Linked DNA regions of Homo sapiens. The protein of the gene in region 2 purifies or fractionates together with the protein of the main gene of each other region. This does not show direct contact. Each region holds a gene or a part of one and is shown on either strand. Other genes may lie near its edges. The genes, in order: ACSL1, PTH2R and NAV1.

Region 1 (2,594 bases), on a different chromosome or scaffold from region 2:
GGGTGAATTCCTGTAAAACAAATTTTCCATTAAGATTTTTTTACAGGTAGATTATATAAACATATGGGGTGACCTAAAGACATACATGAGGAATAAATAATGGAGTAGTTTGACAGGGGAAAGGTTTTTAAATCAAAAGCATTTATTCTCTTTTCCTGGATATCAGAATATGATCCCGAATCCTATCCTAAGAATAGGATGCCTGTCCTTTGTTGAGAAGGTGCAGCTTGGCTGAAATGAGAGGATGGATTGGATGGCTGGAGAGTGTTGATCCCCTCCAAGGCTTACGTGCTTTTGAGACTGGTGGCCCGTGTCCTTTTTCCTCTTTTAACTGCCTTGTTTATTGGCAGGTCAAAGGCATCACATTGCACCCTGAATTATTTTCTATCGACAATGGCCTTCTGACTCCAACAATGAAGGCGAAAAGGCCAGAGCTGCGGAACTATTTCAGGTCGCAGATAGATGACCTCTATTCCACTATCAAGGTTTAGTGTGAAGAAGAAAGCTCAGAGGAAATGGCACAGTTCCACAATCTCTTCTCCTGCTGATGGCCTTCATGTTGTTAATTTTGAATACAGCAAGTGTAGGGAAGGAAGCGTTCGTGTTTGACTTGTCCATTCGGGGTTCTTCTCATAGGAATGCTAGAGGAAAGAGAACACTGCCTTACAGTCACCTCATGTTGCAGACCATGTTTATGGTAATACACACTTTCCAAAATGAGCCTTAAAAATTGTAAAGGGGATACTATAAATGTGCTAAGTTATTTGAGACTTCCTCAGTTTAAAAAGTGGGTTTTAAATCTTCTGTCTCCCTGTTTCTCTAATCAAGGGGTTAGGACTTTGCTATCTCTGAGATGTCTGCTACTTGCTGCAAATTCTGCAGCTGTCTGCTGCTCTAAAGAGTACAGTGCACTAGAGGGAAGTGTTCCCTTTAAAAATAAGAACAACTGTCCTGGCTGGAGAATCTCACAAGCGGACCAGAGATCTTTTTAAATCCCTGCTACTGTCCCTTCTCACAGGCATTCACAGAACCCTTCTGATTCGTAAGGGTTACGAAACTCATGTTCTTCTCCAGTCCCCTGTGGTTTCTGTTGGAGCATAAGGTTTCCAGTAAGCGGGAGGGCAGATCCAACTCAGAACCATGCAGATAAGGAGCCTCTGGCAAATGGGTGCTCATCAGAACGCGTGGATTCTCTTTCATGGCAGAATGCTCTTGGACTCGGTTCTCCAGGCCTGATTCCCCGACTCCATCCTTTTTCAGGGGTTATTTAAAAATCTGCCTTAGATTCTATAGTGAAGACAAGCATTTCAAGAAAGAGTTACCTGGATCAGCCATGCTCAGCTGTGACGCCTGAATAACTGTCTACTTTATCTTCACTGAACCACTCACTCTGTGTAAAGGCCAACAGATTTTTAATGTGGTTTTCATATCAAAAGATCATGTTGGGATTAACTTGCCTTTTTCCCCAAAAAATAAACTCTCAGGCAAGCATTTCTTTAAAGCTATTAAGGGAGTATATACTTGAGTACTTATTGAAATGGACAGTAATAAGCAAATGTTCTTATAATGCTACCTGATTTCTATGAAATGTGTTTGACAAGCCAAAATTCTAGGATGTAGAAATCTGGAAAGTTCATTTCCTGGGATTCACTTCTCCAGGGATTTTTTAAAGTTAATTTGGGAAATTAACAGCAGTTCACTTTATTGTGAGTCTTTGCCACATTTGACTGAATTGAGCTGTCATTTGTACATTTAAAGCAGCTGTTTTGGGGTCTGTGAGAGTACATGTATTATATACAAGCACAACAGGGCTTGCACTAAAGAATTGTCATTGTAATAACACTACTTGGTAGCCTAACTTCATATATGTATTCTTAATTGCACAAAAAGTCAATAATTTGTCACCTTGGGGTTTTGAATGTTTGCTTTAAGTGTTGGCTATTTCTATGTTTTATAAACCAAAACAAAATTTCCAAAAACAATGAAGGAAACCAAAATAAATATTTCTGCATTTCAGGTGAGTGAGGCATCTTTTTTAATGTCATGTTTAATATTCGGAACAGCCTGTAATGTGCACAAGCGAAGAGCAAGAATGGCCCTGGGCCTGGAATCCTTCCCAGTTGTCTTCTTTTCTTCTTAGTCACCCTCCTCTAACTCAGCTGGCCTCAGGCACTGACAGACACTGACCCGAGCCTCCCACCAGGTTGTCTGTGGCAAAAGTCCTAACTGGTTGTGGAAAAGAAAGTCATGGTGTGAATAACAGAGAAGGTCCTGAAAATGCAGCTTCCTTGCTGGAAAATGTATTTCAGGCGACGCTGGCTGTAACTGGTGATTCCGTGGTGAATGTAATCCCACTATTGTATTTTAGCACTGTTTAGTCATTCTCTTACTGTAGAATTATTTCAGATGTCTCTTTATAGCAGCCAACTTTTTCTTGTTTCTTTTCTTCTATCTCCACCCTATTCCTTCTGTTACCATTTTAAAGATTTTCTTTTCCACAGGTATTAATGAATCAACCCCCTAATTTCTTCCAAGCCTGTTGTGTTTAAATCTAGTTTCCTGTCTTAAATTCTGTTTGGTGTGATGATGTGTAC
Region 2 (3,757 bases):
AAAACAAAGAATTATTATATATGTCCCAAAATGTCAACAATGCCAAGGTTGGGAAATCCTGGTTTAAAGTTATAGAAGTATTCAATGTCCTGATTGTTTTATTGAAAGCAAAAGAAAATATTCTGCCCACAATCCCATGGTGATTTATTTATTATTTATTTCTCTCTCTCTCTCTCTCTCTCTCTTTCTCTCTCTCTCTCTCTTTCCTTTCTTCTCTTTCTTTTCTTTCTTTCCTTCCTTCAAGACAGGGTCTCACTTTGTTGCCAGGCTGGAGTGCAGTGGCATGATCATAGCTCAGAGCAGCCCCGAACTCCTGGGCTCAAGAGATCCTCCCGTCTCCCAAAGTTCTGGGATTACAGGCGTGAGCCACCACACCAAGCCTTTTTTTTTTCTTATTGTACTAAATAATACCTCCCCATTTCCTTACAAAAAGTAATCTAGAACACTAAATAAAATAAACGGTTAGAGTTCAGTTGCCTCTTGTATATAAGATGCCATTTTTAAGCATATTATCCAAATATCTTATGAGATAAAAATGTAGGAAGTATAGTAGAGATTACCAGAGTTCTATAACGATCATGGAAATTTATCACCAAATTTTTTTCCATGCATTCATATTCCTTCTGGTAACTTGATGAATTTTTTCAGGTTTAAGTGTATCTTACTTTCAGCTATCCATTGCTAATATTATTAGTCAATGTATGACACACAAATTGTTTAGTTTATTAACAAAATTTATTTATTAACAAAATAAATCTACATGAAACATCTTGGTCATGTTAAGTAAAGCCCACTTTTAGCGTGGCACCTAGCCTAGAAATCCCCTTTAAGTTTTAATGTCTCTGGTTATGACTTTAACAGATAGGTTTTTTAAACTGCACTTTTAGAATAATTGAAATTTAAACTAGTCATCTGAAAGCCGAGAACATAGTATTAAGTTTAGACAGTATCAACACATAAATCACTGCTTTGAATTCTCACGGTGAAATAATTTTTTATTGGGCCTTCATTTGACGGTCTAGGTGCACCCCCTACCGAACCGGAGAGAAATACCTTGATTCGGTTTAAATTCACAGGGCTCTTGAACTGCATAACATCCACCACTACACGCATCTCTCTAGCTCATCTGAAAAGCTGACTGTAAACCCTACATTTGATTTGACTCAAAAAAAAAAGTGCGTATGAATTGTGCCTTGCACATTAAAGAGGCTTCATTGTGAAAGATCGCCCAGAAAATCTCTAAATGATATTAGCAGTACAAAAGTGACAGCCACCGCTTAACATTAACAAATGAGCTGTATTTTGGTATTTTTATTCTGTCTCCTAACTTGAATGTATGTGATTCTGTATCACAGACAGCCAATTATTCTTTCAGATAGTGGTCACAATCGATCCTGTAAATTTAAATTCTCAAAAGCGATGGTAAATTACCAGCAGACAAAAGTCATTTCGATTAATTAAATGGGGACCACGGAGTTTAAGAGTAAGAAAAGTTCCTTCACCTTCCCAGCCTCACACTCTTGATCCACGACTCCGCTGTTCGGAAATATCCCCTTACTTTGCGGATGCCAGGATGCTGGTCTAAACAGTGCCGGCCCCAGGACATCACTCCACTAAAGCAGATCTTTGAAGCTCCCTCCACTAATTGCCTGCCAGCACCTGCCGGGTACGCCTCGGTGCGTGCCGGGGCGTTTGTGGACGTGTGAACATGAATGAGCTCTCGCGCGCACCTGGCCTCCGTGTCGCTAAAGCTGAGTCCCCGCCGGAGGCTCCGCGAAAACAGGTGTCGCGGAGCACTGGCTCTTACCTGGGCTCTGGCCAGGAGGCAGCTGCCGAGCATTAGCCAACCCCAGACGTGGAGCGACGCCCCCAGCCCGGCCATGCCCGGAACGGCTGTAGGAAGAAGCAGGGACCCTCCTCCAGAGCCCGGGAGAAGCTTCCAAGTTGCCAACTTGGCTGGCCCAGAGCAAACTTGTGGCCAGTAACGACGCGCAGCTGGGGTGGTCGGGCCCGGGCCACCGGCCGAGGGTGCTTGGGGTCTTGTCGCCGGAGCCACGCGCTTCTCAGAACCCGCGTGCTGCTGCGCCGCGGCGCGAGGTTGGTCTTGTCTTCCGGAGAGACTGGCCCGAGTCCTGGACTTGACTCGCAGCCCCGCGCCGCCTGCGGCGGGAAGGGGGCGGCTCCCGCCCCAGGCGGATCCGGGTGCGCCCCGCGCGGCTGCGCTCGCGCTCCTCCTCGAAGTCACTGGGTCCCGCAGCCCAGGGGGCGGAGGGCAAAGGATCTCATGTCGCTGCTGCCGCCACCCCCGATTCGCAATGTTTCTGCTTCCCTCCACTCTGTCCCGGGTTCCAGGGCCCTGTCTCTAGGGGCGCCCTGGGTCTTCCAGGAGTGATCCAGAAGTTTCTTCCTGTCCTGCGTGCGCTGACCATCGGCCCCGAGGACAGCGATAAGATGGCTAAAGGCTCCCGAGGCCAGGTAGGCCCTGCGTCTGGGCTGTTCGCTGGACAGTCCTAAAGCTCTCTAAAATGCTCTGATTCATTTTCTCCTAACCATTATAATAATACTCGGTGTGTGTTAAGTAGAAATAATGTATATATTTCTTGTGGGTCAAAAGTTCTTTGTGTGGTATTGTGCTTTGAATCCTGGCATTAAAAAAAGACAACTAATATTCTTTTTTTTTAGTTTATTTTTAAGTTTGACTATTTTAGACATTCATTGGCCAATTGTATTACAACCTTTTAAAATCTCTTGTTCTTGCCTCTTGAAGGAAGAAAGCCTTTGAATTCTGGCTCTGCCATGTGCTAGCTGCATAACCCTGAGCAAATTACATACTGGCCTCTCTTTGTCTTAATCTCCTCAATTGTAAGATGGGAGAAATGCGAGAACCTCCTTTAATCAGCTCTGGATGCTATAACAAAATACCATAAACTGGGTGGCTTATAAACATCAGAGATTTATTTCTCACAGTCTGGAGGCTGGGAAGTCCAAGATCAAAGTGCTGGCAGATTCAGTGTCTGATAAAAGCCCGCTTCCTCATTGACCACTGCTGTCTTCTCATTGCAACCTCACATGGCAGAAGGGATGAGGGATTTTTCTGAGGTCTCTTTTATAAGGGCACTGATCTCAGAGCCCTCATGACCAAATCACCTCTCAAAGTCCATGCCTAATAAGCCATCACCTTAAGGACTAGAACTTCAACATATGTATTTTGGGGGAACATAAACATTCAGCCCACTGCTGTCCCTCAAAATTTTGTTGGAAAAGTTAAGTGAGTAAACAAACATAAAGTCCAAGGAAATGCTCAATAAGTATTAGCTAGTATCGTTAGCATTGTTTGGTGATGATGAATATTATTATTATTATTGTGATCATAGTCTGTGAATGGGCAAAGGGCTGTGGTAAGTTTGAGTATTCCCTATTTATGTAGAAAAGCACTGTCTATGTTTACAATATAAAATATTTTTCTGACATAAATACCAAAATGTTTTTCAACTTTGTTTTTGGCCTAATTTATAATATCTTGATCAGTGCGGAGGGTTTTTTAAATTTATGTATCTAAATCTAGCAGTCTTTTCTTTTATAATTTCTTCCTTAGCTTTTATGCGAGAAAGGAATTGCATACTAAAAATTAGAAAATCTTTTCATCAGATCTTTTTTCTAGTTCTTTTCTACCGTTTCATAATTTTACTGTTTCAAACATTAAATAAATAATTTAATGTTTTAAAGTATCAATTTTTTAGGTAATGTAACAATTTCT
Region 3 (3,657 bases), on a different chromosome or scaffold from region 2:
ATGTGCTGTGATTGTTCCACTGCACTCCAGCCTGGGTGACAGAGTGAGACTTTGTCAAAAAAAGAAAGAAGGAAAGAAAGAAAGAAGGAAGGAAGGAAGGAAAGAAAAGAAGGAAGAAAGAAAGAGAGAGAGAGAAAGAAGAAAGAAAGAAAGAAAGAAAGAAAGAAAGAAAGAAAGAAAGAAAGAAAGAAAGAAAGAAAGAAAGAGAAAACTAGAATATCTGAATTTAAAGCCTGCCTTCCTCACTACTGTTTTGGGTGGTCACCATCAAATTGTACAGAAGACCTTATAATAACAAGCAACAGTTTCCTGTCCCACCTCTTCCCAACTCCATTCTATTGTCCAAATAGTTTTCTGTTATTAGCTCCTTTGGTGGTTATCCACGTAAACTCTAGATAACATACTAATAACTATTCCCTGTTTTGTCACCTGTAGACAATATCTATCATTACCAAAGGAGTTAGACAAGTTTAGAGCACTTACACTAAACCCGACTCTCTTTCTCCTTTTCTTCCTCCCAATATTTGATTTTAGTTACTTTTATGAGTTATCTTGTACCTTTGATCTTAAAATTTGGTTTCTTGTTTTCTAACACTTTGACAGACTCTTGAATCCCCTCAGTAGAAGAGGAGAGTATTAGAGACCCTCCTTTTCCCTCTTCTACCTCTCTTCTTCAGTCAATAACACCTTTATTCACTTATTTATTTATTTTTATTTTTTTAAGAGATGGGATCTTGCTCTGTCACCCAGGCTGGAGTGCAGTCGTGCAATCATAGCTCACTGCAACCTCAAACTCCTGGCTGGGATCAAGTGATCGATCCTCCTATATCAGCTTCCCAAGTAGCTGTGGCAGGAGGACCATACTATAGGCATGTGCCATCATGCCCAGCTAATTTTTTAATGTTTTGTACAGATTGGGGGGTGAGTCTTGCTAGGTTTCCCAGGCTGGTCTTGAATTCTGGCTTCAAGAAATCCTCCTGCCTTGGCAGTTACACCTTTATTGATAGCTATTTACAGCCTGCCCAGCAACCACAACTAAGTATATTGAGCTCTGCATAAAGACTATCAGTAAATGTCATTTACATGATCATGACTACATAAATATTATTAAATCCCAGCCTTAGAGCCTCACTTTCCTCCTCTGTCAAATGGGGACAGCATAGCATGTGCTAACACCTCATAAGACCTAGTGGGCTGGGCACAGTGGCTCACGCCTGTAATTTCAGCACTTTGGGAGGGCGAGGTGGGTAGATCACAAGGTCAGGAGTTTCAGACCAGCCTGGCCAAGATGGTGGAACCCCGTCTCTACTGAAAATACAAAAATTAGCCGGGCATGGTGGCAGGTGCCCGTAATCCCAGCTACCCGGAAGGCTGAGACAGAGAATTGCTCGAACCTGGGAGGTGGAGGTTGCAGTGAGCCGAGATCATGCCACTGCACTCTAGCCTGGGCAACAGAGCAAGACTCCGTCTCAAAAAATAATAGTAATTTAAAAAAAGACCTAGTGAAGAGGATACAGAATGTGTGGAATGTAAAAGACGCAGGTTTTTACAAATATAATCTCTTATTTTTCTATCATTACATATGACATGCAGCATGGAGTGGTAATAATGGCTCATACTATTTGGGCAACTTAGATAACTCTCTGAACTGCAATTTCCTAACCAGTAAAATGGAGAGAATACTAGTACCTATCTCGCTAAGTTGTTGGAACGATTACATGAAATGATATAAGTCAAAGTGCTTCTCCTCCCGTGGTTCACTATCCCAATTTTAGGGATCATGACCTTATTTCCCTTTTGCTGAGAGAGAAAATTCCAATTTAGGCCTTAACTGAGCAGGCTGTGGGTTGAGAAAAAGTATACAGCACTCTCAAAAAGGCATTTGGGAAACTACTGGAAAATCTGATTCTGGCCATATATTAAACAATTCTGTTAAATCCAGTACTAACGGGTATGATTGTGGTGCTGTAGCTTCATAGAAGTATGTCCTTGTTTGGCCGGGTGCGGTGGCTCACACCTGCAATCCCAGCACTTTGGGAGGCCGAGGTGGGCGTATCACCTGAGGTCGGGAGTTTGAGACCAGCCTGACCAACATGGAGAAACCCCGTCTCTACTAAAATTACAAAAAAATTAGCCGGGCATGGTGGCGCGTGCCTGTAATCCCAGCTACTCGGGAGGCTGAGGCTGGAGAATCGCTTGAACCCGGGAGACGGAGGTTACGGTGAGCTGAGATCGTGCCATTGCACTCCAGCTTGGGCAACAAGAGCGAAACTCCATCTCAAAAAAAAAAAAATGTCCTTGTTCTTTGGAAATAACATGCTTAAGTGTTGAAGGGTTAAGTATCATGATGTCAACAAATTACTTTTTTTTTTTTTTTTTTGAGACAGAGTTTCATTCTGTCTCCCAGACTGGAGTGCAGTGGTGCCATCTCAGCTCACTGCAACTTCTGCTTCCCGGGTTCAAGTGATTCTCCTGCCTCAGCCCCCTGAGTAGCTGGGATTACAGGCACCCACCACCATGCCCAGCTAATTTTTGTATTTTTAGTAGAGACGGGGTTTTACCATGTTGGACCAGGATGGTCTAGATCTCCTGATCTCGTGACCCACCCACCTTGGCCTCCCAAAGTGCTGGGATTACAGGTGTGAGCCACTGGGCCTGGCAACAAATTACTCTTAAGTGGCTCAGAAAAATATTATATAGATTGATCTATATACAGAGCAATCTAGCAAAATGTCAACAATCAGTGAATGTAGACATTCATCGTACTAGTCAGTCTTTCACCTTCTCTACTTATCTGACGGTTTTCAAAATAAAACCTTGTGTGTGGGGGAACTTGCACCATAGGAAAGCACCTTAACTGTCATGTGGCCCTTTCCCCTCCCCCTGGGAACTGCGCATGGGCCCTGAGGGTGCAGCTTCCACAGACTCACCCAGTGAGGTAGGGGTAAGTGTGGCTGACACCTTCTAAATCTACTTGGTAAAGCGAACTATACCCAGAGGGCGATGAAGAGCACAAAAAGCCAGGGTCCAACGGGCAGCACGCAATAGTGCAGGGTATGCCGTGCAATCCAGCCCTCTTCCTGAAGCTCTGGGGAAGGAGAGCCAGAGGGGCCATACAGAATGGTCCCAGATGAGAGACAAAGGCAGGCAGCTGCTTCGTATGGGTCCTGGCTGGGGCCCCCTAACCGTGTGTCTCATCAGCTGTCTCTCCTTTGTTAAAGGAAAAGCAGGAAGAGAGCAGTTGGTATCTTGGCATTACCCAGAACCCAGATACTCCTTCCCAGTCAACTCAATTATCTGCACCAATGAACTGGGAAAAAGGCACTGGTAACTGACTCTTGAAATCCTTTATTATGGACCTATTCTATGCTATGCTTGAAGTCTACCAAAAAATTAGATAACACCAAAACCAGATGAAATAACTAAACAACAAACAGTAAAGAGCAAAGATACAGTCAGACTCGTTCCTTTATGCCTTCATTTATCCCTTCTGCATCAGCCCAGTTCTCTGGTTTTCAGGGGCAATCTACAAATTGAAAAGAAAATCTGCTTTGTCTATCTGATAATAAATAGGTGATCTGCCTATGGCTAACCTGTGCCAGTAAGCTCATAAATGGAGTGGTGCACCTCACTCTGGACATGACACCTTCAAAGAAG

The links.
Region 1: the proteins of PTH2R (region 2) and ACSL1 purify together in Homo sapiens (co-immunoprecipitation; one large-scale study listed by IntAct). This does not show direct contact.
Region 3: the proteins of PTH2R (region 2) and NAV1 purify together in Homo sapiens (affinity purification with mass spectrometry; one large-scale study listed by BioGRID and IntAct). This does not show direct contact.

The regions. Positions count from the first base shown.
Region 1 is NC_000004.12:184,755,022-184,757,615, reverse strand, and holds the end of ACSL1 (long-chain-fatty-acid--CoA ligase 1), read left to right. Parts: intron 1-350; coding exon 351-491; 3' UTR 492-2,021; downstream 2,022-2,594. UniProt on the Homo sapiens protein: Catalyzes the conversion of long-chain fatty acids to their active form acyl-CoAs for both synthesis of cellular lipids, and degradation via beta-oxidation. Preferentially uses palmitoleate, oleate and linoleate.
Region 2 is NC_000002.12:208,405,169-208,408,925, reverse strand, and holds the start of PTH2R (parathyroid hormone 2 receptor isoform 1 precursor), read right to left. Parts: upstream 2,135-3,757; 5' UTR 1,883-2,134; coding exon 1,808-1,882; intron 1-1,807. UniProt on the Homo sapiens protein: This is a specific receptor for parathyroid hormone. The activity of this receptor is mediated by G proteins which activate adenylyl cyclase. PTH2R may be responsible for PTH effects in a number of physiological systems.
Region 3 is NC_000001.11:201,545,627-201,549,283, reverse strand, and holds part of NAV1 (neuron navigator 1), read right to left. Parts: intron 1-3,657. UniProt on the Homo sapiens protein: May be involved in neuronal migration.